Regions from separate parts of the Homo sapiens genome. Here regions 1, 3, 4 and 5 are each linked to region 2. The links come from fine-mapping of genetic effects on gene expression. A gene starts in region 2. Each other region holds a variant in brackets. All regions are shown on one strand. Distances are between the middles of the regions.

The links. PIP is the estimated chance that this variant, and not a neighbour inherited with it, causes the effect.
Region 1: its variant is fine-mapped to the expression of FAAP20 in whole blood (INTERVAL, PIP above 0.99).
Region 3: its variant is fine-mapped to the expression of FAAP20 in tibial artery (GTEx, PIP above 0.99).
Region 4: its variant is fine-mapped to the expression of FAAP20 in activated naive CD4 T cells (Schmiedel 2018, PIP 0.95).
Region 5: its variant is fine-mapped to the expression of FAAP20 in monocytes after LPS (Fairfax 2014, PIP 0.95).

Annotation. Positions count from the first base shown.
Region 1 is chr1:2,102,478-2,107,575 of GRCh38, reverse strand. The region is part of intron 4 of PRKCZ (protein kinase C zeta); the gene reads right to left. Among named protein-coding and RNA genes, the nearest start is that of PRKCZ, 55 kb to the right of the region's middle. The variant A/G (reference allele first, on the strand shown) is at 2,365.
Region 2 is chr1:2,191,955-2,197,052 of GRCh38, reverse strand. FAAP20 (FA core complex associated protein 20) reads left to right here and starts at 2,281. Exons shown (of 4, transcript NM_182533.4): 1 at 2,281-2,365; 2 at 2,920-3,055; 3 at 3,143-3,414. The coding sequence starts at 2,304. LOC112268219 (a long non-coding RNA gene) reads right to left here. Exons shown (of 1, transcript NR_168005.1): 1 at 4,595-5,098. RefSeq lists an enhancer at 647-1,313 and silencers at 1,947-2,426, 2,437-2,526.
Region 3 is chr1:2,243,107-2,248,204 of GRCh38, reverse strand. All of the region lies in intron 1 of SKI (SKI proto-oncogene), which reads right to left. Among named protein-coding and RNA genes, the nearest start is that of SKI, 17 kb to the right of the region's middle. RefSeq lists enhancers at 1-817, 4,287-4,807. The variant A/C (reference allele first, on the strand shown) is at 2,303.
Region 4 is chr1:1,508,803-1,513,900 of GRCh38, reverse strand. It overlaps ATAD3A (ATPase family AAA domain containing 3A), which reads right to left and starts at 1,739. Exons shown (of 16, transcript NM_001170535.3): 1 at 1,428-1,739. The coding sequence starts at 1,632. It also overlaps a transcript of ATAD3B not described here. RefSeq lists silencers at 1,622-1,781, 2,232-2,431 and enhancers at 1,932-1,991, 4,247-4,888, 4,889-5,098. The variant G/AG (reference allele first, on the strand shown) is at 3,095.
Region 5 is chr1:2,367,148-2,372,245 of GRCh38, reverse strand. The region is part of intron 8 of MORN1 (MORN repeat containing 1); the gene reads left to right. Among named protein-coding and RNA genes, the nearest start is that of MORN1, 22 kb to the left of the region's middle. The variant A/TA (reference allele first, on the strand shown) is at 3,059.

The DNA of each region.
Region 1 (5,098 bases), 89 kb after region 2:
CCCAGTCCCCTACTTCTAGGAACTGATCCCAAAAAAGCCCCAGCACAAAAGTAAAATGGGAGGTATCTGCACACGTTTTCCCACCGCAGCTCCATCTGTAGTTGAAAAAGATGGGACGGAGCCCCCACATGCATCAGTCAGCCCAGCCCAACGGGCACGGGAGTGTGTGCGGCCGTGGAAGGAGAGAGGACGCATCCACTGAGGGGTCTCAGGACACGTGACGTGCGGGAAAAAAGCAGGTCTGGAGCAGGACCTGCCTCAGGAGAGGGAGGACGCAATCCCGCCTCAGTGTTGCTTGGCCAGGGAGAGGGGCGGCCTCCGCACAGGAGCCCACACAGCCACGGAAGGCAGCCGGCTGTTGGTGCAGGCAGCACTCACTGTTACACGAATCACGAGACAGAGAACTGCACACCAGTGCTCCGCACCCCGGTCACAGACGCAGAACCCCGAGGAAACACGGGGGAGGCAGAGCAGGCCCTGCGAGGCACAGGCCTTCTTTTAACTTTGATCTCAAAAGCATGAACTCTCTTAAACAACTGAGACAGCCGAGCCGGAGAAACCGCAATCCTGGCTGCGTTTGGTGAAGTCAAGTGACTCCTGTGCTAACGTTTTCTTCTGCTTTGGCCTCTGGAGACACGTGCAGAGGTCCTCGCCCACCGGAGGGGCTTGCTGAGAGTCACCTGGCCTGGTGACACGTGTGGAGGGGCTTGCTGAAGAGTCGCCTGGCCTGGTGACACGTGTGGAGGTCCTCGCCCACCAGAGGGGCCTGCTGAAGAGTCACCTGGCCTGGTGACACGTGTGGAGGTCCTCGCCCACCAGAGGGGCTTGCTGAGAGTTACCTGGCCTGGTGACACGCATGGAGGTCCTCGCCCACCGGAGGGGCTTGCTGAGAGTTACCTGGCCTGGTGACACACGTGGAGGTCCTCGCCCACCAGAGGGGCTTGCTGAGAGTTACCTGGCCTGGTGACACGTGTGGAGGTCCTCGCCCACTGGAGGGGCTTGCTGAGAGTTACCTGGCCTGGTGACACGTGTGGAGGTCCTCGCCCACCAGAGGGGCTTGCTGAGAGTTACCTGGCCTGGTGACACGTGTGGAGGTCCTCGCCCACTGGAGGGGCTTGCTGAGAGTCGCCTGGCCTGGCGACACGTGTGGAGGTCCTCGCCCACTAGAGGGGCTTGCTGAGAGTCACAGGTATCGGCTGGAGTGCAGGTTGCCAGGAGCCAGGCAGGGTGTGCACGAGGCCTCACTATGTAATTCTCTCTACTTCTGTCAGTTTGGCATTTTTCCTAATAAAAACTTTTCAAGTACCAAGCCGCTCAGTTCTGCCTTTTGATGTTTGGATGCCTTGGCTGGAGCTCCACCTCCCTTCCCTGGCTCTGGGTCCGGCCCTGTCCTTCCCTGGCTCTAGGGGGCTTTGTGTCCACAAAATGTCAGGCTGCTCCATCAGCCACAGGGGGCTGGGGGGACACCCCATCGAAGTCCTGGGCGAGGCCCTCATCTCCCAACAATCCTGAGGACCTGTCTGGCATGGCCAGGAGACGTGGAAGGGCCACATGCAAATGAGGTGGCACCTCCCACACAGGGCACAAACGCAGGAGCCCCCTCATCCTCAGGGGGTGCCACTCGTGGTCCCAGCATGTGTGTGTGGGGGGGTGGGGCCTCATCCAGGCCTGGTGGGCAGCCCCTCCCACCTGAGACCTGAGAATAATTCTCATCCGACGATGACAACTATGTGTCTGAAAGTGACCTTCCCGGCATCACCTGGTCATCACCCACAGCAGCTCCCAGGGGCACGCAGCCACCCTGCTCCTCCTGACAGCTCTGTGACTACTTCACCCCAAATTCATTTTGCTTAGACATTTATTTGAAAAAAGACCTGGCCAGGAGTGGCAGCTCACGCCTGTAATCCCAGCACTTTGGGAGGCTGAGGTGGGTGGACCACTTGAGGTCAGGAGTTTGAGACCGGCCTGGCCAACATGGTGAAACCCCGTCTCTACTAAAAATACAAAAATTAGCTGCGCATGGTGGCAGGTGCCTGTAATCCCAGCTACTCGGGAGGCCGAGGCAAGAGAATCGCTTGAACCCGGGAGGCGAAGGTTGCAGTGAGCTGAGATCACGCCACTGCACTCCAGCCTGGGCAAAAGAGTGAGACTGTCTCAAAAAATAAATAAATAAGGCCTAACGTGACCCTTGGCCAAATGCCTAGTGCACTTACTTCTACTCCCGGATGGGCCCCGGGCACCCTCATGACCAAGCCCCAACCTCAGGGCCTTTCAAGAGTTGCGTCTACAAACACCCTGCAGGCCCTCACCCCCAGGCAGGGACAAACCAGCTGCTGGGGTCACCTGCTGGGCGGCAGTGCCGGT[A/G]CACAGCGCAAGAGCTGTCTCCTGACGAGCAGGTTTGGAAGGAACAGCATGGCCGTGACGCAGTGACTTATGCCTTCAAAGCCACAGGGATGGGAAATTGCTTCATGGCACGACAGACGTGTGCTGTGATAAGGGGTTACTCGTTCTCAACAATGTTGGCTATGCAAGCGTCCTTGAGAAGTCTGAACTCACAGGGGAGCTGTCACAGATCAAGGTCAACAAGCCAGGGTGGCTGTCGGGGTGAGGCCGGCCGCGCCCTCCTGAATAAAAGGCCTGGGTGCTGTGTAATGAGGTGTGAAGAATAAAGGCTACTCACCCTGAAAACTGCTCTTCTCTCTCTGAAGACAGCACACACTCACCAGTCCCCGCTCACACCGCAACACCCGGCGAGGAAGCGCCCTCCAACTCTCCCTTTCGTGCTCGGCCCCGGGGGGCAGCAGTGAGCCCCGCAGGCCAGCCCGCTGCGTCCTGCCTGTCTGGCACCGAGCGATGTTCTGACCACCCCTCGCCAGGGCAGGCCCAGCCTCCCTCTCTCCTCCCAGTCCCCACCCACACTGGCTTCCCCTGGATGCTCCCTGCCTGGGCTCCACCCCAGGGCCTCATCGCGGCCATCCCCTGCCACCTGGGATTGTCCCCTCCCAGCCTCCCCTCTTAGGGCCCTTCCCACCATTCGCGCCACTGGATGCCTCTGGGGCTCCCCTGTCTGTCCCCTCACTCCTCTAGAACACATACCCCTCGCAGACCGATGCTGCTGTACTGGCCCCTGAACTGGACACAGAGGCCCTGAGGTTCAGGCCACCTTCTTCCCCTGCAGCTCTGGGGCAAGCACTGGCGTCTATCCAACCACCAGCCGTAACCTTCCCTCAGCCCGTGGGGCTAGGAGTCCAGGCTTCAGCCAAAGAAATCGCAACCAAGAGTTGGACCCCCTTTTTGATGTTCGACTGCTGGAGGTGTTTGAGACGACCCGCTCCCCTCCCGCCCACATCCCAGTGAGGTGATGAGGGCCCTGGGGAAAGTTCAAACCCTGCAAGCCTCAGCCCCTGCTCACCCCGCCTTGCCCCAGAGCCGCCACGGAAACCGAGACAGTCTCCTTACAGGCGCGCTCAAGACCTTTCTGGACCATCCTGGAAGACCCCCCTCCCCTGCTCTCCCCAGAAAACCTCATTATGTGGTGAGAAGCTCCCTCCCGTCTGCGTGCGGTGCTGTCATCTGTGTGGACACCTGAGCCAAATGTTGGGCAGGGGTCCATCCCATCTCTTCAGGGTGACCAGTGATTACAAGTGAACAGCTGGCGTCCAGGCCAGGAGGTGTTTAAACGGGGGCGCGTTGCCCTTCACCCCTCTCCTCCCACTGCCGCCTCAGGTGCAGCCCCCAGAGACCACAGCAGCTTGTGGAGAGGGGAGCGGCCAGCACTCACCCGCCGCCCCAGAGGCCCTTCCTTCCCATCTACTTTGCTATCCCTGTTTTCCCTTCTAGACAGTCCTCTCTCTCTTTCTCTGTTGCCCAGGCCAGAGTGCAGTGTTGCAATCATAGCCCTGCAGCCTCGACCTCCTGGGCTCAAGCGATCCTCCCTCGTAGCTAGGCCTACAGACACGCGCCACCGTGCCCAGCCTCACGCTTCTCTTCAAGGAAGCGGGGTTTGTGCTGATGAGGAAAAGTACATGACTGCATGACTGATGGAGCTTGGAGGGCTTCTTTGGGCTGGGGTGGGGGCAGCTTTCCCTGCGGAGCACCTGTGTCCCCCTCCCAGGCCTTCCCGAGGCACACGCGCCACTGGACGTGCCAGCTGCTGATGAACCATCCCCCACACTCTGTGTAACTGTGTCTTGAACTGATAAATAAATCAGTCTTGATAAATAAACCCTTACTACTGCGGCAGCTGTGTCGGCCGCTCTCCCGGGGAAGCCTTTCCCAGTCACTGGGGCTACGACTTGCTTTTTGGAGTCCTCTTAGAACAAGGCCGGGTGAGAACATCAGCTGCTGTTTGTCCACAGTGTAAGACCCACTGTGGAAACAGAGATATGAGTACAATTCTTGCCCCCCAAAAACCCCACAGTCTAGCCCGGCGTGGTGGCTCCCAGTACTTTGGGCGGGCGAAGTGGGAGAATCACTTGGGGCATTCCAGACCAGCCTGGGTAACAAATCAAGACCCCCAACTCTACTAAAAATAAAAAATTAGCCAAGCGTGGTGGTGCGCGCCTGAAGTCCCAGCTAGTTGGGAGGCTGAGGTGGGAGGCTTGCTTGAGCCCAGCTGCAGTGAGCCGTGATTGTACCACTGTACTCCAGCCTGGGCGACAGAGCAAGACCCTGTCTCTTGAGAGAGAGACAGACGGGGGGAGGGGCCAGAATATAAAAACAGTCAAGAGTCCAAAGGGTAAGGCCCCTCCAGCCCCTAGGTTTCTGGGCCCTGTGTCTCCTGGTTCTGAACCAATCCGTGACGCAGGAGAGTTGGGGGTTGGGGGAGGAGACTTGCATTTTTAGATCTCTTTCTACAAAGTTGAAATAAAGTGGAGAAAAAAATACACGAAGTTTCTAGAAATCTATCATTACTCATAACAAAGTAAAACAAACAAAAACGAGGGCCGGGCACGGTGGCTCACACCTGTAATCCTAGCACTTTGGGAGGCCAAGGCGGGCGGATCACGAGGTCAGGAGATCGAGACCATCCCGGCTAACACAGTGAAACCCCATCTCTACTAAAAATACAAAAAATTAGCGGGACGTGGTGGTGGGC
Region 2 (5,098 bases):
ATGGCAGGAGGGCACTGGACCATGTGGGGGCCATAGAGGAGGAGGAGGCAGGAGCCACCCCCGGGTCCAACAGCAGAACCCTGGGGTTGGGAGCCAGAGTGGGGAAGGGAGAGGAAGGAGCAAGAACACCCCCCACCACCCCCAGCACGGCACAGAGAGCTGAGCAAACACTTGTCACCAAGGGCTTTTCTCCTCTGTCTTTTTTTGTTTTTCGAGACAGAGTCTTGCTGTGATGCCCAAGCTGTTGTGCAGTGGTGCGATCTTGGCTCACCACAACCTATGCCTCCTAGGCTCAGGTGGTTTTCGTGCCTCAGCCACCCAAGTAGTTGGGATTAAAGGTGTGCACCACCATGCCCGGCTAATTTTTGTATTTTTAGTAGAGATGGGGTTTCTGCATGTTGGCCAGGCTGGTCTCAAACTCCTGGCCTCAAGTGATCCTCCCGACTTGGCCTCCCAAAGTGCTGGGATTGCAGGCTTGAGCCACCACACCTGGCCTATTTTTTTTTTTTTTTGAGTTGGGGTCTGGAGTGCAGTGGCACGATCTTGCCTCACTGCAGCCCCCACCTACCTGGGCTCAGGTGATCCTCCCACCTTAGCCACCCAAGTAGGTGGGACCACAGGCACATGCCACCATGCCCAGCTAATTTTTTATTTATAGAGACAAGGTCTTGCCATGTTGCCCAGGCTGGTCTCAAACTCCTGGGCTCAAGCAATCTGCCTGCCTGGACCTCCCCAAGTCCTAGAATTGCAGGCATGGGCTGCTGGGCCTGGCCTTTTCTCCTGTCTTGGGAGGCTGGGACCAGTCTTCCTGGAAGTACCCAAGGCCCTCCTGCAGACCATGGTGACATTTCCAGGAAAGACCCAGAAGCTCGGAGCTGAAGCCAGGGCAGCCAGGACTGTCGGGGAGCCCTGGACACTGGCTGTCTGAGAGCGCTTGGTCAGCTGGCACCTGCCATGTGGTGGACGTGGGGCTGCAGAGACCCCACGGCTGGGCTTCTCTCGCCTGAGAGCAGGCCCAGCCACAGGCTACCTCCCACAGGGCCCCCTGAGACCACACGGCCTGCAGCAGCTCCCCCAGGCCCCCTCCCCCTGCCCGGGCAGCACTCAGCGCTGCATCTCCATCTGCTCACTCAAGTCGAAGGGCCTGGGGGTTGGTGCCTCCATCTTGTTCTGCTGGGGGCCTCCAGCATCTAGAGCAGGAAGGTGTGCGGAAGAAAACCACTCATGCAGGGAGAGGGGGACCTCCCAGTCCAGGCCCTGCTGCTGACCCTTTCCCTGAACACCAACCTATGGCCTCCAGGCTGGGGCCCCTTGAAGGACGGTGGGCCACTCGGGTGGCCTGGGTTCAGGGCCGGGCTCCACAGCTGAGTTCTGGAGGGAGGGCACAGACGACTGGGGGCTGGGAGGGGCCAGGTGAGGGGTAGGAACAGCCAGGGAGCCCTGCAGGAGGGGTGCCCAGCATAGCCCCAAAGCTGCTGGGGCTGGGCAGGGCAGAAACTGCCAAGGAGTCCCAGAGCCCTGAGTGGCGTCTGGCGAGGGCCCCTGACCCTGATCTCTGTAGACCCCACTCCTTCCGTGAGGGTGGCAGCCACTCCAGGGCCCAGCAGGGCCAAGGGAGAGGCAAGTGGCCTGGGCCCATGGGGCACTGGGCACAGCCAAGTGTGGCACCAGGGTGCCTGGGCGGCTGCTGCCACCACGTGGCCGACTTTGAGGTCGCAGAGCCCGGGGTCCAGGCAGGAAAGCCCCTCAGCTGCCCCCAGGGCCCTGGCCCAGGCCCCTGAGGCCCAAGTGAGCCACCTGGACTTTGTCACTTCGCCTCTGGTTTCTTGGTTAAGGAGCTTGAGTTCCCCGCCTTTTGTAAAGAAACGGTGGTGGCGACGGCGGATTTCAAGCTTTATTTACTCCTGGAATGGTCCTGGGAGGAGAGGCGGCTCCGCAGAGCCGGAAACGGGGGCGGGAGCTGTTGGGTGCAGCCGGGAGGAGGCAGTGCCGGGGCGGGCCGGGCAGCCATCGGGGTAACGGAGGGGGCTCCGGCCCGGGGGCTGCCCGGACGGGAAAGGGGACACGGGCGGGGCTCCCCCACCTGGGCCCCCCACCCTCACGCCAGGCCCCCCTGTGCGGTGCAGGACGAAGGAACCCTGGCCTCAGTTTCCCTACAGGCTGGGATCAGGGCCCCTGGGGTTCCGACTGTCTCGGAGGGGGGCGGCCTCGCTGCAGAGGTCTGGAGGCGGGGCCGGGGCGGGGGCGGGGCCTGGAGGGGCGGGGGCGGGGCTTGCGCTCACTTCCGCCCGGCGCGGGCTTGGATGGAGGCGGCGCGGAGGCCGCGGCTGGGGTTGAGCCGCCGGAGGCCGCGCCCGGCGGGCGGGTGAGGCCGGGAGCCGGGCGGGGGCGCGGCCGGTTTTCCCGCTCCCACGTGCTTCCCGGCGCCCCCGCGGGCCTCCCGCTCTATTCTCCCCCTGGGGAGGGCTCCCTGCCCCCGGGCCCGGCCCCCACGCCCGTCGCCCCACCCCGCGCCGCCATTCAGCGCCCGCCTTGAGCCCCCACCCCACGCCGAGCTTCCCCCGCGCCGCCCCAGGCCCTCCCGCGCCTCTCCCATCATCGCGTCTCCCCTGAGCACCCCCCATCTAACCCTCTACCTTCCCCAGGCCCTCCGCAATCTCCCCAACCATCGCCTCATCCCGCTGAGGACCCCATATTTCCACCCACCCACCCCGCTCCCCCACCCCCAGTACCCCTCATCTCCGCACTGTCTGCCCCAGCAGCCCTTCCCCCAACCCTGCCGGCCACCTCCCGCACCATCGAATTTCCCTCTAGTACCCCCCATCTCCCCGCTCTCTCTGCCCCAGGCCCTCCCGGGTCTCCCCACCATAGCGTTTCCGCTACTGAGTACCCCCTGTCTGCCCTCTCTGTCTGCCCCAGGCCTTCTGGCGGCCGCCCCTGGTTTCTCCTGGGGGGTGATGAGCGGGAGCGGCTCTGGGCCGAGCTACTGCGCACGGTGAGCCCGGAGCTGATCCTGGATCACGAGGTGCCTTCACTGCCCGCCTTCCCAGGACAGGTGTGCCCACTGGGCCCATCTTAGCGATGAAGGGGTTTCCAGGGCGGGAGCCATCGCTGGGCAAGGCCCAACAACTCTGTGTTGCAGGAGCCCAGGTGCGGCCCGGAGCCCACTGAAGTCTTCACTGTCGGACCCAAGACCTTTTCCTGGACACCCTTTCCGCCGGACCTGTGGGGCCCGGGCCGTTCCTACCGGCTGCTTCACGGGGCAGGAGGGCACCTGGAATCCCCCGCCAGGTCCCTGCCCCAGCGCCCGGCACCTGATCCCTGCAGGGCCCCCAGGGTGGAGCAGCAGCCGTCTGTGGAGGGTGCCGCGGCCCTGCGCAGCTGCCCCATGTGCCAGAAGGAGTTCGCCCCCAGGTGAGTAGGCCACCCCTGCGCCCGGCCCGGTTATCCATCCGTGTTTGGAAACCACAGCCGTTCAGAAGGTCAAGAGGTGGCCGAGCTCAGCGCTGGCTTTTAAAGCCCTGTTTCACACTGGAAAGGTGGCCCAGTGCTGTGGCCTGGCATGTCCAGGTGGCTCTCTGTCACGGGTCTGGGGTCCACCTGCTTGCCGTGCTCTGTGGGCAGGGCAGGCTGGGGGCCCACAGAACAGCACAGAAGGAAGGCTGGGAGCACTGGCCCCGGGTCCACCTGGCCATCCTGGAATCTGGTGGCACCAGCGTCCCCAGGCCCAGAGCACAGGAACACCTTCCCGAGAGTGCGTCATGGGTTTTAAAAATGAAGATCGTCTTTTTTGTCTGGAGATGCTTTTTCTTATTTTTGAAACCCAACGTATATTTTTATGTATTTTTTAAGTAAAGGGGAATGGAACCCAGTTTTGCTAACAAGATAACCCAAACTGCCCAGTGCCTGGCCTTGTGTCTGGCGACCTCTGGGCCCTTGGCCTCCGGAGCAGGTCCTGGGGCTGGGGTGGTGTGAATGATGCTGGTTCGTAACTTTTGGTTGAGTTAATGGGCGGCAGGTTTCAGAGCTTATGGAGACCAGGTCCTTCAGTCATGCCTGATGCCCCTGGTCTTCCAGAAGCAAAAACAGCTCGGGAATGCGAAGGCACCGGAGTCCAAAGTTGGCAGCCAACAACAACAACAACAAAAGAAAAGGCCGGGCACGGTGGCTCACGCCTGTAATCCCAGCCCTTTGAGAGGCTGAGGCAGGTGGGTTGCTGGAGCCCAGGAGTTTGAGACCAGCCTGGGCAACATGGCAAGATCCCATCTTTACATGCCTGGGCGTGGTGGCGCGTGCCTGTGGTCCTAGCTACTCTGGAGGCTGAAGTGGGAGGATTCCCTTGAGCCAGGAATTGGAGGCTGTAGTGAAGTATGATTGCACCACTGCACTCCAGCCTGGGTGACAGAGTAAGACCCTGAATCACGGACAGAGGGTACTGTTGGGAGCCCTGGGGAGAAATCCATGCTCTTGGCTGAAGCTCTGAGATCCTTGTTGCTGTCAGGGTGCTGCCCCCCGCCCCCCGGGGAGGGGCTTTTGTCTTTGCATCGCCTGCTTTTCCAGATAGTCTAAAAAAAGACTTCTGAAGACAAGGACGTTCACGAGGAAAAACTTGCCATTTTGAGCTTTTTAAGCAGTTGCTGAAAGCTTGGCAGACTGCCTCAATTTTTCCTAAGTAGGCGTCAATGAAGTCAGGTCCAGGCCTTGGTGTGTCTGGAATGCTTCAAGCACATTCGAACACTTGATCGTAAGGGAGAGCCGGTACTTTGGAACCGGAACTCACCCGAGGCTGTGGCCACCGCATGGGCAGGCTAGCTGGGGGACAAGCCCCATATCTTTGGGAACAAGGGTTTGCACAGCCACCCTGGGATGCCCTGGGACTCCTGACCGCACAGGACCCCAGCAGGGAGGCCGCCTGGATTGGAGGGTCTGGTCTAACAGCCGGACTTGGTCTTGAACCGTCGCCCTGTCCCGCACAGGCGCCTGCTGAGCCTGGAGCCCTGGCAGAGGCGGGTCTGGGGAGTGGAGCTGCCAGGAGGCCTCCCATTTCTCACAGCCTTGGTGTTCTCCGGGTCACCCAGAGGACCGTCAAATGCTGGAT
Region 3 (5,098 bases), 51 kb before region 2:
AGGAGCTCCCCCCAAGAACCTGGTGGCCTCAGGGCCTGGAAAGGCAGCTGGCCAGGCCCCTAGGGCTCTGGGGAAGGAATGTGGGCTGCTCCAGAAAGTCCCCAAAAGCACCAGGGTCCTTCCGCGCACTCACCACAGCCTCTCCGTGAGGCACCGGTGCACAAGAGCAGACACGACGCGACCAAGGCCCCCCGCCACCGCGCCCCCCCGTCACCACCAGCAGAGCCAAACAAGTCAACATGGGGCTGAAACTGGTCCCAGCCCACATGCCCTGGTAAAAGGGGCGGGCACGCTGCGTCCAAGGGCTGTCCCAGCTGCGTTGGCAATGGCGCATCCAGGGGAAGGAGGCCAAGGTGTGCAGCCAGCAGTAAGGCCCCTTCCCGAGAGCCAGACTGGACTCGGGCTGGGGCAGCTGTGTGCTCCCCAAGGGCACCTGTGGGGCCCAGGAAAGAGGAAGAGCAAGTCCTGATGCCAGGAGCAGGCCCTGGGCTCCTAGGTTCAGGAAAAAGTCAAGGCCAAGCCAGCAGATTGTCCCAGAAACCCCAAGTGGCCAGGGCAAGGGGGTACATACTTCTTGCCTGGTGGCTGCACCCCAACCCCAGGGAGGCATTTCTAGGGGCTGCCAGAGAATGGCCCCTTGCCCCGGGTCCACCACACCACCCACATTTGGCAATGGGTTCCAAAGGGAGGAACGTGACAGGCTTCTGTGAGGTGGCAAGTATCATCTTCAGCGAAGCCATCATTTTGCTAAAAGAACTTTCTCCAGGATCTGGCAGGATATAACTTCAGAGCCAGAAGAAAGGAGGGAGAAGCACGCTGCAAACAGGCCCTTGGTCATTTGGGAGTCTGGGGTCCTCTCGCTGCCCTTCCCTGGCTCCAGGCTGAGGGCGCCCCTGACCCAGGCCCTTCCCTCTCCAGCTGCACACACCCATGCACACCTGTGCACACACATGCCCACGGCTCCCTTTTTTGTTTTTTGTTTTTTTAAGATGGAGTCTTGCTCTGTTGCCCAGGCTGAAGTGCAGTGGCACAATCTCGGCTCACTGCAAACTCCGACTCCCAGGTTCAAGTGATTCTCCTGCCTCAGCCTCCCAAGTAGCTGGGACCAGGTGCATGCCACCACACCTGGCTAACTTTTGTATTTTTAGTAGAGACGAGATTTCACCATATTGGCCAGGCTGGTCTTGAACTCCTGACCTTGTGATCCGCTGGCCTCAGCCTCCCAAAGTGCTGGGATTACAGGCGTGAGCCACCGTGCCCGGCCTGTGCCCATGGCTCTTGCACAGGCCTCCCAGAAAGCAGAAGCAGCCTGGCCACAGTGGGCGAGGTGGAGGTTCCTGAGGCCCCCCCCATCAGGTTCCTCTTTGCTGCTGCTACAGGCCAGGCACACGGTAGGTGCCCCTTCACAGAAGAGCAGCCCCATCAGGCCCGACTGCCGCACTCTCTGAGACTCCCTCCCCCAATGGCACTCACAGCCTTCGGCCCCAGCAGGTCACTGTCATCTCTTCATCACACAGAAGCCCTCTCCATGAACACCACCAGTCCCGGCAGAGCCCCCGCCCAGCTCGCACAAAGGAGGGGTGGGGAGTCTGACTTGCAGACAGCGCTGCACACCGAGGCTCACAGAGCGTCTCCTCTTACAAACATGAATCTGGCGCCGAGACGCTCCAGCTTCCTGACCACCACAGCAGAGGACAGAGGCAGCCTCCAGCAACAGAGGCAGGATCCGACCACGGTGCACGCAGTAGACAAACAGGAGACAGAAATTTACAAGTAGAACAGGATCACTAACCAGAGTAGATAAAGACGTACAACTGAGCAAAGGCCCCCACACACAACTCGACTCAAAGAGGGACTCAGACATTCCTCAAAGAGGATATAGGAGTGGCCAATAAGCACACGAAAAAATGCCCAACATACTAATCATCAGGGAAATGAGAACCAAAACCACAATGAGATGCCACCTCACACCCATTAGGATGGCCGCTGTCAAAAAACAGAACAAGTGCTGGAGAGGATGCAAAGACAGTGCTGCTCGAACGCTGTTGCTGGGAGTGGAAAATGCTGCAGCCACTATGAAAAACAGTCGGTTCTTTAAAAAGAAAAACGGGCTGAATGCGGTGGCTCACGCCTGTAATCCCAGCACTTTGGGAGGCCGAGGCGGGATGACGGCTTGAGGCCAGGAGTCAGAGACCAGCCTGGCCAACGTGGCGAAACCCGTCTCTACTAAAAAAACAAAAATTAGCCAGGTGTGGTGGCACACACCTATAGCCCCAGCTACTCAGGAGGCTGAGGCAGGAGA[A/C]TCACTTGAACCTGGGAGGCGGAGGTTGCAGTGAGCCGAGACTGTGCCACCGCACTCTGGCCTGGGCAACAGAGTGAGACCCTGCCTCAAAAAAAAAAAAAAAAAAAAAAAAAAGAAGGAAAAATAGGGCCAGGTGCAGTGGCTGACGCTTGTAATCCCAGCACTTTAGGAGGCCAAGGCGGGCAGGTCACATAAGGTCAAGAATTCAAGATTAGCCTGGCCAACATGGTGAAACCCCATCTCCACTAAAAATACAAAAATCAGCTGGGCATGGTGGCACATGCCTTTAGTCCCAGCTACTTGGGAGGCTGAGACAGGAGAATCGCTTGAGCCCAGGAGGAGGTGGAGGCTGCAGTGAGCCGAGATCGTGCCACTGCACTCCAGCCTGGGCAACAGAGCAAGATGCTGTCTCAAAAATAAATGAATAAAAATAGAATGATCAATGATCCAGCAATCCCACTTCTGGGTCTACACCCAGAACTGAAGGCAGGGTCTCCAGAGGTCACTGTGCACCCGTGCTCACAGCAGCATCATTCACGACAGCTAAACTGTGGAAGTCACCCGTGTGTCCACTGACAGAAATGGGTAAACAAAATACATCCATACAGCAGCCTGCGGTTCAGTCTTGAGAAGGAAGGAGACTGTGACACAGGCTACGCATGGCTGCGCCTTGAGGACATGGTGCTGAGTGAAATAAGCTGTCACAAAAGGACAGATCCTGTGCGATTCCACTCACAGGAGGCCCCTAGAGTCACCAAAGTCACAGAAACAGAAAGCGGCGGGTGGGTGTTGGGGGCTGGGGGAGGCAGAATGGGGAGTGAGTGTCTCATGGGGACAAAGGCTGAGCCTGGGAAGGTGGGTGAACAGCAGCGTGAATTTGCTTTACAGTTTTAGCTGTTCTGAGGTTAGGTGCGTATATATTATTGTTAGATCTTCCAGTTGATTCGACCCTTTTATTGTTCTGTAACTACTTTTCTGTTTCTAGTAATAGTTTCTGAAGAAAAGTATATTTTGTTTGATACAAATGGAGCCACTCCTGTTTTCTTTTGGTCACCAATGGCATGGGATGTCTTTTTCCATTCCTTCACTGTCAGCCTATGTGTTCAACACTGCTGAATGCTACATGTAATGGTCAACATTATGTTTATTTTGCCACAATAAGAAAATGTAATATGCACAAGTTACAGAAAAAAATACTGAAATAACAAAACAATCAACCCACCAAAAAGCAAAGAAATACAAACTAAATGATGAGATTTTTCACCTTTCAAATTAACAAAGACACTCTAAATGACAGAATCTTGTTTTTGCTTTTCGTTTTTTGAGACAGAGTCTCGCTCTGTCACCCAGGCTGTAGTACAATGGCGCCATCTCAGCTCACTGCAACCTTCACCTCCCAGGTTCAAGCTATTCTCCAGCCTCAGCCTCCCAAGTAGCTGGGACTACAGGTGCACACCACCACGCCCAGGTAATTTTTGTATTTTTCTAGTAGAAACATGGTGTCACCATGTTGGCCAGGCTGGTCTTGAAAACCTGACCTCAAGTGATCCACCCACCTTGGCCTCCCAAAGTGCTGGGATTACAGGTGTGAGCCACCATGCCCAGCCTAAATGACAGAATCTTAAAAGTTGTCAGGAGGGGCCAGGTGCAGTGGCTCACGCCTGTAATCCCAGCACTTTGGGAGGCCGAGGCAGGCGGATCACGAGGTCAGGAGATGAGACCATCCTGGCTAACACGGTGAAACCCCATCTCTACTAAAAATACAAAAAATTATCCGGGTGTGGTGGCGGGCACCTGTAGACCCAGCTACTCAGGAGACTGAGGCAGGAGAATGGGATGAACCCGGGAGGCGGAGCTTGCAATGAGCCGAGATCATGCCATTGCACTCCAGCCTGGGTGACAGAGCGAGACTCTGTGTCAAAAAAAGAAAGAAAGAAAGAAAGAAAAGTTTGGGTAAAACAATCCCACCTTTTAGGGGAATCTCAGAGTCCACTAAGGAAATGATCAGAAACGTGAACAAAGATCTAAGCACACACAGAATCATCCCAGCTGAGTGAACATACAAAAGCAATCTATAGAGATGTGTATTGCGTGTGCGTGTATCAGTAAATAACAGGGTGCCTGGCAGACAGTGTGCCTCCCCTCTGACCTGCCACGTCTACAAGAAACTCACCACACCCCTAGCATCCCATGCAGCAGAGAACTCGTTTACAGCCAACAAGACCGATGACAGGGAGTGTTGGGACGCTTTGGAAGACAGCCTGGCGTGACCGACATGCCCTCTGACCAAGCTGTTTCACTCCCAGGCCCACATGGTGCACCACAGCCTACCCAACAGCAAGCACTCTGCCCACTCGTCCCAAGGCACAAGAACAGGACGAGCAAAGCTGCACGGTGACACTGACACAGTGAGTCAGCCAGAGTGACAGGCACTCGGAGAGCACACGCGCAGACCAGCAGCCTGACAGGAGCTCCTGCAACAGAGCACAACGGCCAGCCTGCACCCACAGCTGCAGAAAGGGCAGGCGGGGCATAAGGATGGCGGCCCCCTGCCGAGGAGCACGAGAGGGCAGGGCGGGGATGAAGCAGGTGGTACGCGGAGCACACTGACATCTCGTGCAGCCAGCACATGGTCACGAAGCCCGTGTGATGTGTTTGTGCTGACACGCGCCCTGAAGCATCTCTTGCGATACCAAAACACGGCCCATGCCCCAGACACTAAGTAAGTTCCAGACTCTCAATACCAACGGATACTCCAAAATACCACAGGGCTGGCCCAAAAAGGCACCAGGCACC
Region 4 (5,098 bases), 680 kb after region 2:
CAAGGGACAGAGGAGGCAGTCGGTGAGGAGGAGCCGCCCGTTTGCCTGGAGAGCAGCAAGGACAAAGCAATGGGCTCCGGCCGAATCTCGGCGACCCGCTGCCAGGAAAGGGGCACGGAGGAAGCCAGGAGCGTCGGGAGGGGCCGGGCTTGCAGAGGGGCTACCAGGCAGAGGGGCAGGGCAGGGGGCACCCGGGGAAAGGGGGCAGTCAACTCTGGAGAAACCTCTCTCACCTGCCAGCAGTGAGGCCAGGAAGGAGGGAAGGGATCAGAATGAAAGAGCCCACACCTGGAACACAATCCACAGGAAACAAAAGCCTGATGGAGGGCTCCCCACGGTGCACCTGGAGACCCTGCCCCGGGCCCCGCTCCACCACAGAGAGGGCAGACCAAGGCACTGGCAACGCCGGCAGAGCGGACTGCGGGTCAGGAGCTCCGGGGCCGCCAGGACTGGAGCAACTCAGAGGCACAGGTCTGCACTATGGGGAGGCGGCCTGAGGCTGCTCAACCAGGCCTGTACCACTGCAGGGGGCCGCAGGCTGATCACTACGATTCAGCTTCTGGAAGTGGGAGAAGTTTCAATCTCTAAGTGAAGTTAGCGGGTGAAAACCCCCAGGAACTAGGACACAAAGGAACCCTCCAAATAAGCCTGCAGCAAGAAAGTCAGTCACCAACATCCGCTGTCCTCCGAGGTGCCCTGAAGTCCAGCCCTTGATTCCCATCCTAACCTGATGGTTAAAATTACCGAGGAAGGCCATGAGCAGCGGCTCACGCCTGTCATCCCAGCGCTTTGGGAGGCCGAGGTGGGCGAATCACCTGAGGCCAGAATTCAAGACCAGCCTGAACAACATGGTGAGTGCTCACACCCTGAGGGCCTTGGGTCAGGGGTTTACTCAAGCTGAGCAGCACGGCCTGGCCTGTGGCTTCACAGACCTCGCCGTGCAAATGCTAACGTCTTCCAACAAGAAGTGCAAATCTGCTAGTCTCGTTAGAATCAAGTAACTCTCAAATACGCTTCCCTTGTTACGTGGAAACTGCTAGCAACCACCCAACAAACCCATCTACCCATCTGGCCACGCCTTGGCCTGTGCCACGTGGAGGCGGCAAGCGCAGAAGGATCCCGCACGCTCGGCGGTAACTGAAGACCACGGCCAGCCCCAGACCCTGACCCCTGTAACCTATGAGCGCCACCTCCGCACCGCTTTCCGCACCTGACCCGCTCCTGACAGCTGCAGAGGTGCAAACGGGTGACGGAAAGAGTCCGATCCTCCCGGCACGCGACACGGCTCCGGCCGGGGGTGCTCCGGGGGCGCAGTCTCGCCCGGGAAGTGGCTGCCGACAGCGGCGAGGAGCGGCAAGGGCCAGGGCTCCCGCTTCCCCGGCCCGTCCCGCCCGCCCGCCCGCGCCGCCCCGCCCCGCCGCACTCACGCGAGTGCTCCAGCTCGCGCGCCGCCTTGGCGGCGCGCTCCAGGCCGGTGGGGTCGAAGTTGCTCCATTTGTCCTTGGGCGCCGGCCGGTCTCCCAACCCGCGGTCCCCGCCGCCCTCGGCCCCGGGCTGCGCGGGCGGCAAAGGCGGCGGCGGCCCCGCGCCTTCACCCTTGGGGCCCTTGTTAATGCCGAAGAGCCACGACATGCTCGCACCGCCGCCGCCGCTACCGCCGCCGGGACCCCCACCCGAGTCTGACTCGCGCGCGGCTGGGAGCAGCCTCCACGCGCCGCGAGCCGGTGGTCACCGCCACTGCGCAGGCGCCACACACACCCCTTCCTCCCGGCGATAGAAGCGCGTAAGGGACACGCGCGCAGCCCTTGGATTGGCCCCGAGGACAGTGACGCCATAGCGACGGCGCCGCGACTGCCGAACAGGCTTTGGGAGCCAGCGGGGCGGGAGCGGCGAAGCATCTGGCTACGGGAGCCACGCCGGGACAAAATTCCCGAGGGACGTAGGCGAACCCAAGGCAGCGTCAGCCCCGCGCCGCATCCGCGTGGGCTCCGTTGCTAGGGGCTCCGTTGCTAGGGGCTCCGAGGAGTTCCGGCCTTGGCGGCAGCGGGTGGCAAGTTTCCAGGGAGCCCCAAGGTTCTCGATCCGTGCGGCGGGGCGCCCTGCGGTGAGTCCAGGACGCAGAGAAGAGTCTCGCGGGAACCTCACCCGAGGCGGCACCGGCGCCCGGGCAAGCCGAGCCCTTCCGCGATGAGTCGGCGCCCTGGGGTCGCTGCGCCAAGAGCTCAGGAGAGGCGCCTCCCCTCCTCGGTGTCTCCGCAGCCCGCACGGCCCTCCCGCCCAAGACCCCGGGGCGACCCCTTCCCGCGTGGCGGGGCCAGCGAGCTCCTCTTGCGGGGCGTGGACGGGGCCGGGGTGCCCGGGCAGGCGCCGCCCCGGAGCCCACGGTCCACGCGCTCCCAGCGGCCCTGACTTTCTCCTTGATGGAACTGGTTGACTTCACGGAATATATGGAGTGACTTTTCCCACTGGATTGGAAACTGTTTTAAGCCTGAATAATGTTAGATACAATGAGTTCTAAACTTCCCTTCAAAGAATCAGTATATCAGTATGTTCAGTCTTTGTCCTGCATTTTAAAGTCTACCTTCCTCGCAGTTTCAGTAAACAACCTTTTCCACCAGTTCTAGTCAGTAGTTGACATCTGTTGCCCTGGTCACCTGCTCCGTCCTAACTAATCCCGGTCTCCTGCTTTGACCTGAGTCACCTTTAGTTACCTGTCCCATAACCATTTTTCCCGCCAAACCACTCACCCCGCCACTCTGGCCCATACTCCTGCTCCCTTTAAAATAGCCAATGGGCACTAGTTTAGACTGTGCATTCTAACCCTAGCCAATAGGGGAACCACACAGCAGTAGGGGCTACCCGCGTCAGGAATAAGAACCCCTTCCCCTCCCTTGTCCAAGCGCTCGCCATTGCTCCATCTATGAGATGTCCCCTTCTATAGAAGTAAATTATCTAGCTGAGAAAAATTTATATTCGAGTTCTACTTCTTTGGCGGCACAGAAAATTTACATATAACACAGTGAGCTGCCGAGATCTCGTCACTGCACTCCAGTCTGGGCGACTGAGTCAGACTCTGTCAAAAAAAAAAAAAAAA[G/AG]CCAGAAAATGCCGGCCAGGCGCGGTGGCTCACACCCGTAATCCCAGCACTTTGGGAGGCCGAGGTGGGCAGATCACCTGAAAACAGGAGTTTGAGACCAGCCGGGCCAACATGGTGAAACCCCTGTCAAAAATACAAAAATTAACCTGGGCATGGTGGCGTGCGCCTGTAATCCCAGCTACTCCGGAGGCTTAGGCGGGAAAACTGCTTGAACCCTGGAGGTGGAGGTTGAAGTGAGCCGAGATCAGGCCACTGCACTCCACCCTGGGCGAGCACGACTCCATCGCCAAAAAAAAAAGAAAAGAAAAAAAAAAGAAAAAGAAAACAGGGCAGGCGCGGTGGCTCACGCCTGTAACCCCGCCAGTTTGGGAGGCCGAGGCAGGAGGATTGCTTGAGCCCAGGAGTTGGAGACCAGCCTGGGCAACAAAGAGAGACCCCGTCTGTACCAAAAAAATAGGAGAGGAGGAGAAAAACCAAATGACTTCCCCAGCAATAGCCAGACGTCCCCCCACCCCCACCCCATGGCTGTAATCAAGGTTTTGGTTATTTATTTATTGAGAGGGTCTCACTCTGTCACCCAGGCTGGAGTGCAATGGTGCGATCTCAGCTCACTGCAACCTCTGCCTCCCATGCTCAGGCGATCCTCCTACCTCAGCCTCCAAGCCAAGAAGCTGGGACCACCGGCATGTGCCACCTGGCCCTTTTTTTTTTTTTTTTTTTTTTTAGAGGGAGTTTGACTCTTGTTGCCCATGCTGCAGTGCAATTCCATGGTCTCAGCTCAGTGCAACCTCCACTTCCCAGGCTCAAGTGATTCTCCTGCCTCAGCCTCCTGAGTACCTGGGATTTCAGGCACTTGCCACCACGGCCGGCTAATTTTTTTTTTTTTTTTTTTAGGAGAGATGGGGTTTCACCATGTTGGCCAGGCTGGTCTGGAACTCCTGACCTCAGGTGATCCACTCTCCTTGGCCTCACTGAGATTCCAGGCGTGAGCCACCGCGCCCAGCCCCATCATCAAGGTTTGCAGGGACTAGCTGCAAAGCGCGGGCAGGGGCGGCATCTATTTGAAGCCGCTGTGTCTGTTTCGCGTGCACTTCCCTCCACCGTGTGTCTGGCCACAGGCAGCTCTGGCGGAGGGGAGGGAGGCGAAGGGCACCCGCGTATGCACGGCCTCAGGATGGGGCACGGGCACCCGGCCCTGCCGTGGCAGGCACCTCCTGTGCAGCCCACCCCTCTGTGGTTAAATCCTCCAGAAAGCCCCAGCTTCTGCCTTTTCTGTCACCTTTGACCCCAGGGGGACGTTAGGGGGCCCCAAACCCCGCCCCAGCCAATAGACACAGCGGTGCGGCCCCCGTGGGACTTTATTACGGGGAGTATTTCCTAAATGTGCGGGGCCGCAAAGGCAGGGGTGGGAGGGGTCCGCGGCCAGGCTCCGTGAGGTGTGGTCTCCCCATGGACTCAGGATGAGGGTTGCTCGTCCTCGGGCCCAGGCCTCCCCCTCTTCAGCCAGCGCATCATCTGCTGGTGCTGCTGGACAGCATCTTGCACGCGGGTGTCCATCATGGCCTCGGTCAGGACCCCGTCCTCGGAGGCATACGCCGTGGCCTAGTGGGGAGAGAGGGAGCTGAGGGAGGCCGCCATGGGAACCCCCCACCCCAAATGCACGCCAGGGCCCCGAGGTGGGGAGGGACCAAACCAGGGGCTCCAGGATGGCCTGAGCGTGAAACACAGGCTTCCCGCACCTCGGCAGAGCCCAGCACGTGTGTGGACACCGGGGGCAGCCCCTGCAGTGCCCACAGCCCTGCCTGCGTCCTCAGCACTGCTGTTGCTCAATGACTTTCTAATAATAGAAAGCCCAAGGCGGAGCCTCACTGACGGCCGACCCAGGGCAGCTTCCGAGAGGCAGGTGGGAACTGCAGACCCTCTGCGTGTCTCAGCCGTGGCCAGGCAGTGCCCCCGGGTCATAGTGCACCTCAGACCCTCAGACCCTGACCCTCACAGGCCTCC
Region 5 (5,098 bases), 180 kb before region 2:
TATGTGTGTGCATATGTGTGTATGCCTTGCACAGGTGTGCACAGGTCTGAATGTGTATACGTGTGGGGGGGCACGCGTGCACGTGTGTCAGAGTGTCCTTCCTTTTTAGGAGGAACAGTCTTCCATTCTAGTGAGGGGCTACTTTCTGCTTCCCCACTCATCCGCTGCTGGCCATCGCAGTTGTTTGTACCTTGGGCTGTTATGAATAGTGCTGCTGTGGACATGTGTATACAAGTTTTTGTGTGAATGTGTTTTCATTTCTCATGGGTATGCACCTATGAATGGAATTGCTGGATCACATGGTAGATTTATGTTTGAACTTTTTTTTTTTTTTTTTGAGATGGAGTTTCACTCTTGCTGTCCAGGCTGGAGTGCAGTGGTGCAATGTCGGCTCTCCGCAACCTCCGCCTCCCGCGTTCAAGTGATTCTGCCTTGGCCTCCTGAGTAGCTGGGATTACAGGCATGTGCCATCATGCCCCACTAATTTTGTATTTTGAGTAGAGATGGGGTTTCGCCATGTTGGTCAGGCTGGTCTCGAACTCCCGACCTCAGGTGATCAGCCCGCCCCAGCCTCCCAAAGTGCTGGGATTACAGGCGTGAGCCACCGCGCCTGGCCTAAACTTTTAAAGAAACTGCTAAACTGTTTTTCCAAAATTGCTGCAGCATTTTACAGTCCCACCAGTAATGCATGAAGGTTCAGATTTCTCTGCGTCTTCCCAACACTTGGAATTGTGTCTTTTTGTAATAGCTGCCCTGTGGGTGTGAAGTGATAGCTCCTCGTGATTTTGATTCGCATTTCCCTAACGAGTGATGACGATGAGTGGCTCTCGCTGTGTTGATTGGCTGTTTGTTTATCTTCTTTGGAGAAATGTCTATTCAAATATTGTACCCATTTTTTAAAAATTAGACTATCAGTCAGGCACAGTGGCTCACACCTAAAATCCCAGCACTTCGGGAGGCTGAGGTGCGAGGATCACTAGAGCCCAGGAGATCTTTCTTCTTGGTGTTGTTGTTGTTGTGGTTGTTGTTGTTGTTTGGAGACAGAGTCTCGCTGTGTCACCCGGGCTGGAGTGCGGTGGCACGATCTCGGCTCACTGCAAGCTCCGCCTCCCAGGTTCAAGCGATTCTTCTGCCTCAGCCTCCCGAGTAGCTGGGACTACAGGCGCCCACCACCACGCCCAGCTAATTTCTTGTATTTTTTTTTAGTAGAGACGGGGTTTCACCGTGTTGGCCAGGATGGTCTCGATCTCCTGACCTCGTGATCCACCCGCCTTGGCCTCCCAAAGTGCTGGGATTACAGACGTGAGCCACCGTGCCCGGCCAAGTCCAGGAGATCAAGACCAGCCTGGGCAATATAGTGAGACCCCATCCCTAAAAAAAAAAACCAAAATTGTTTTTAATTAGCTGGTCATGGTAGTGCATGCGTGTGGTCCCAGCTACTCGGAAGGCTGAAATTGGGAGAGTCCCTTGAGCCCAGCAGGTTGAGGCTACAGTGAGCCCCGTGACTGCACCACTACACTCTAGCCTGGGTGACAGAGGGAGACCCTGTCTCATTTAAAAAAAAAAAAAAAGAAGAAAAAAAAATGAAAAAAAGGTTGTCTTCTTATTTTTAGCTATAGAGTTCTTTACCTATTGCGGATATAAGTCCTTTATCAGATATGTCTTTGCAAATGCTTTCCGTCCACCTACGGCTCATCTTTTCATTTGCCTAATGCTATCTTTGGAACAGCAAAAGTTTTTCATTTTGCTGAAGTCCAGTTTGTCCATTTTTTCTTTTATGGAGCATAGTTTTGGTACCGTATTTAAGAATTCTTTGCCTAACCCAAGTTTCACAAAGATTTTCTCGTATCCCTCCAGAACTCTTATAGTTCTAGCTCTTACATTTAGGCCTGGGATCCAGTGTGAGTTATTTTTTATGGAAAAGATAAAGTTCTAAATTCATCTTTTCTTCATGGGGATGTTCAATCATCCCAGCATCATTTGTTGAGAACACCGTCCTTTTGCCGTTGAGTTGCCCTGGCACCTTGGTTGAAAATCAGTCAGCCCTAAGAGTCAGGGTTGATGCCTGGACCCCCCGTCTGCTCCACTGATCTGTCTATCCTGATTTATCCTCAGTCTATGCCAGGGCCACGCTATCTGGATTCTTGTTGCTTTTAGCACGTTTTCCAATTGGAGAGTCCTCCAGTTTTGTTTTTCCTTTTCAAAATGATCTTGACTCTGCTGGGACCTTTACATTTCTGTATAAAATTTTAAGATCAGTTTGCCAACTTCTGCAACAACAACAAAAGAAGGCTGCTGGAATGTTGATGGAGGTGCGTTGAACCCCTCTGGAGAGAATGTCCAGATGAAATCTTACCAACACTGAGGCCTCCATCTCATGAACACAGAAGCATCTCTCCATTTAGGTAGAGTTCTTACTTTATCACCAGCGTCTTGTTCCTTTCAGCACACATCTTGCACTTCTTTGTGAAAGCTATTAATACATAATAATGTTATTTATTAGATATTGAATTATAATTATTTTATTAATTATTTCTAAATGCTGATAAATTTGTTTATTCTTTTTATGCCATCATGAGTAGAATTTTCTTAACTTCATTTCAGAGGTTGCCGTAGACTACAATTGATTTTTACATATTGACCTCATTTCCTTTGACTTGCTTTACTCATTTATTAGTTCTACTAGTTTCTTAGAGGATTCCTTAAGATTTTCTCTATATACGATCATATTGTTTATAAATAAATACAGTTTTACTTCTTCCTTTTCAGTCTGAACATGAAAAGCTGCAAGGTTTTTACATTACCTCCAGCAATGAAAGAGGGTTCCAATGGCTTTACACCCTCCTCAGTACTTGCTATTGTCTGTCTTCTTTTTTTTTTTTTTTTTTTTCTGAGACTGAGTTTTGCTCTGTCATCCAGGCTAGAGTGCAGTGGCTCAATCTCGGCTCACTGCAAGCTCCACCTCCTGGGTTCACACCATTCTCCTGCCTCAGCCTCCTGAGTAGCTGAGACTACAGGCGCCTGCCACCATGCCCGGCTAATTTTTTTGTATTTTTTT[A/TA]GTACAGACAGGGTTTCACCCTGCTAGCCAGGATGATCTCAATCTCCTGACTTCTTGATCCACCACCCTCGGCCTCCCAAAGTGCTGGGATTACAGGCATCAGCCACTGCCCCCCGCCTTTTTTTTTTTTTGAGACTGGGTCTTGCTTTATTGTCCAGGCTGGAGTGCAGTGGTGCAATCTCAGCTCACTGCAACCTCTGCTTCCCGGGCTCAAGCGATTCTCCTGCCTCAGCCTCCCAAGTAGCTGGCACTACAGGCACCCACCACCACGCCCAGCTAATTTTTGTATTTTTAGTAGAGACAGGGTTTCACCATGTTGGCCAGAATGGTCTCCATCTTCTGACCTTGTGATCCACCCGCCTCAGCCTCCCAAAGTGCTGGGATTACAAGCATGAGCCACCGTGCTGGCCTGTCTGTCTTTTGGATGTAGCCATCTTTGTGGGTGTGAAGTGGTGCCTTCTTGTGGTTTGGATTTACATTTCCCTAAAGGCTAATGATGTTGAGCATCTTTTTGTGTGCTATGGGCCATTTGTAGATCTTAGTTGGAGAAATGGAGATAAGAGGCAGAACTTGACTCCAGAAGTGGGGCTCAGACACAAGACCAAATTGAGGACTAGATAAAACAGGGTCAGGGAGGAAGCAGCCTTCCATAAGACACGCCCACCAACGCATCATGCCAGTTTACCATCACCATGGCAACACCTGGGAGTTACCACCCCTTTCCATGGCAATGGCCTGATGACCCAAAAGTTACTGCCGCTTCCCTAGAAATGTCCACATAAACCACCCCTTGATCTGCACGCAGTTAAAAGTGGGTATAAATATGACTGCGACACTGCCCTGAGCTGCTGCTTTCTGCCTGGGGGGCAGCCCCGCTCTGCAGGAGCTGTAGCCCTGCCGCTTCCATACCTCCCATTCACCCTTAAATCCTTCCCTGGCCAAAGCCAAGAACCCTCACAGGCTAAGCCCTGCTGTAGAGCTCACCTGCTCTGCATCAAGATGTCGTAAGAGTTCTTGACATATTCTAGACACAAGCCCCTTATCAGATATCTAATTTGCAAATACATTTTTCCATTTTGTGGGCAGTCAGACAGTTTCTTGCTGGTGTCCTTTGAAACACAAAAGTTTTAAGTTTCGATGAAACCCAATTCTCTCTTTTTCTTTTTGTTGCTTTTGATGTCATATCTATGAAGACTTTGCTTAGTCTGGAGTCATGGAGATTTACTCCTGTGTTTTCTTTTAAGAATTTTATATTTTTAGGCCAGGCACGGTGGCTCACGCCTGTAATCCCAGCACTTTGAGAGGCCAAGGCAGGTGGATCACCTGAGGTCAGGAGTTCAAGACCAGCCTGGCCAACGTGGCAAAACCCTGTCACCACTAAAAAATACGAAAACTAGCTGGGCATAGTGGCGGGTGCCTGTAGTCCCAGCTACTTGAGAGGCTGAGGCAGGGAGAATTGCTTGAACCCAGGAGGCAGAGGTTGCAGTGAGCCGAGATCACGCCACTGCACCCCAGAGCAAGACTCCATCTCAAAAAAAAATGACATATTTTTAGCTCTTACATTTAGGACTGTGAACCGTTCGGTATTAATCTTTTTGTTTGGTGTAAGGAAGGGGTCCAACTGCTGTATATTCCTTTGAATGTGGGTATCTATTTGTCTTAAGATCATTTGTTAAAAAGAGTATTCTTTCCCCAATTATCTTTTTGTTTGTTTTTGTAATTTTTTTTTTTGTAGAGACAGAATCTCACTATGTTGCCCAGGCTGGTCTCAAACTCCCAGGCTCAAGCGATCCTCCCACCTCAGTCTCCCAAAATACTGGGATCACAGGCATAAGCCACCAAGCCTGGCCTTTTTTCTTTTTCTTTTTTTTTTTTTTTTTTGATAGAGCAATGAATTATCTTGTCCTTCAGTTTGCTAAAGTTTTTTTGGGAATTTCTGCATCCCTGTTCGTGAAGGATATTGGCATGAAATTTTCTTTTCTTGTAATGTCTTTGTCTAGTTTTGCTATCAAGGTAATGCTGTCCTCATAGAATGAGTGA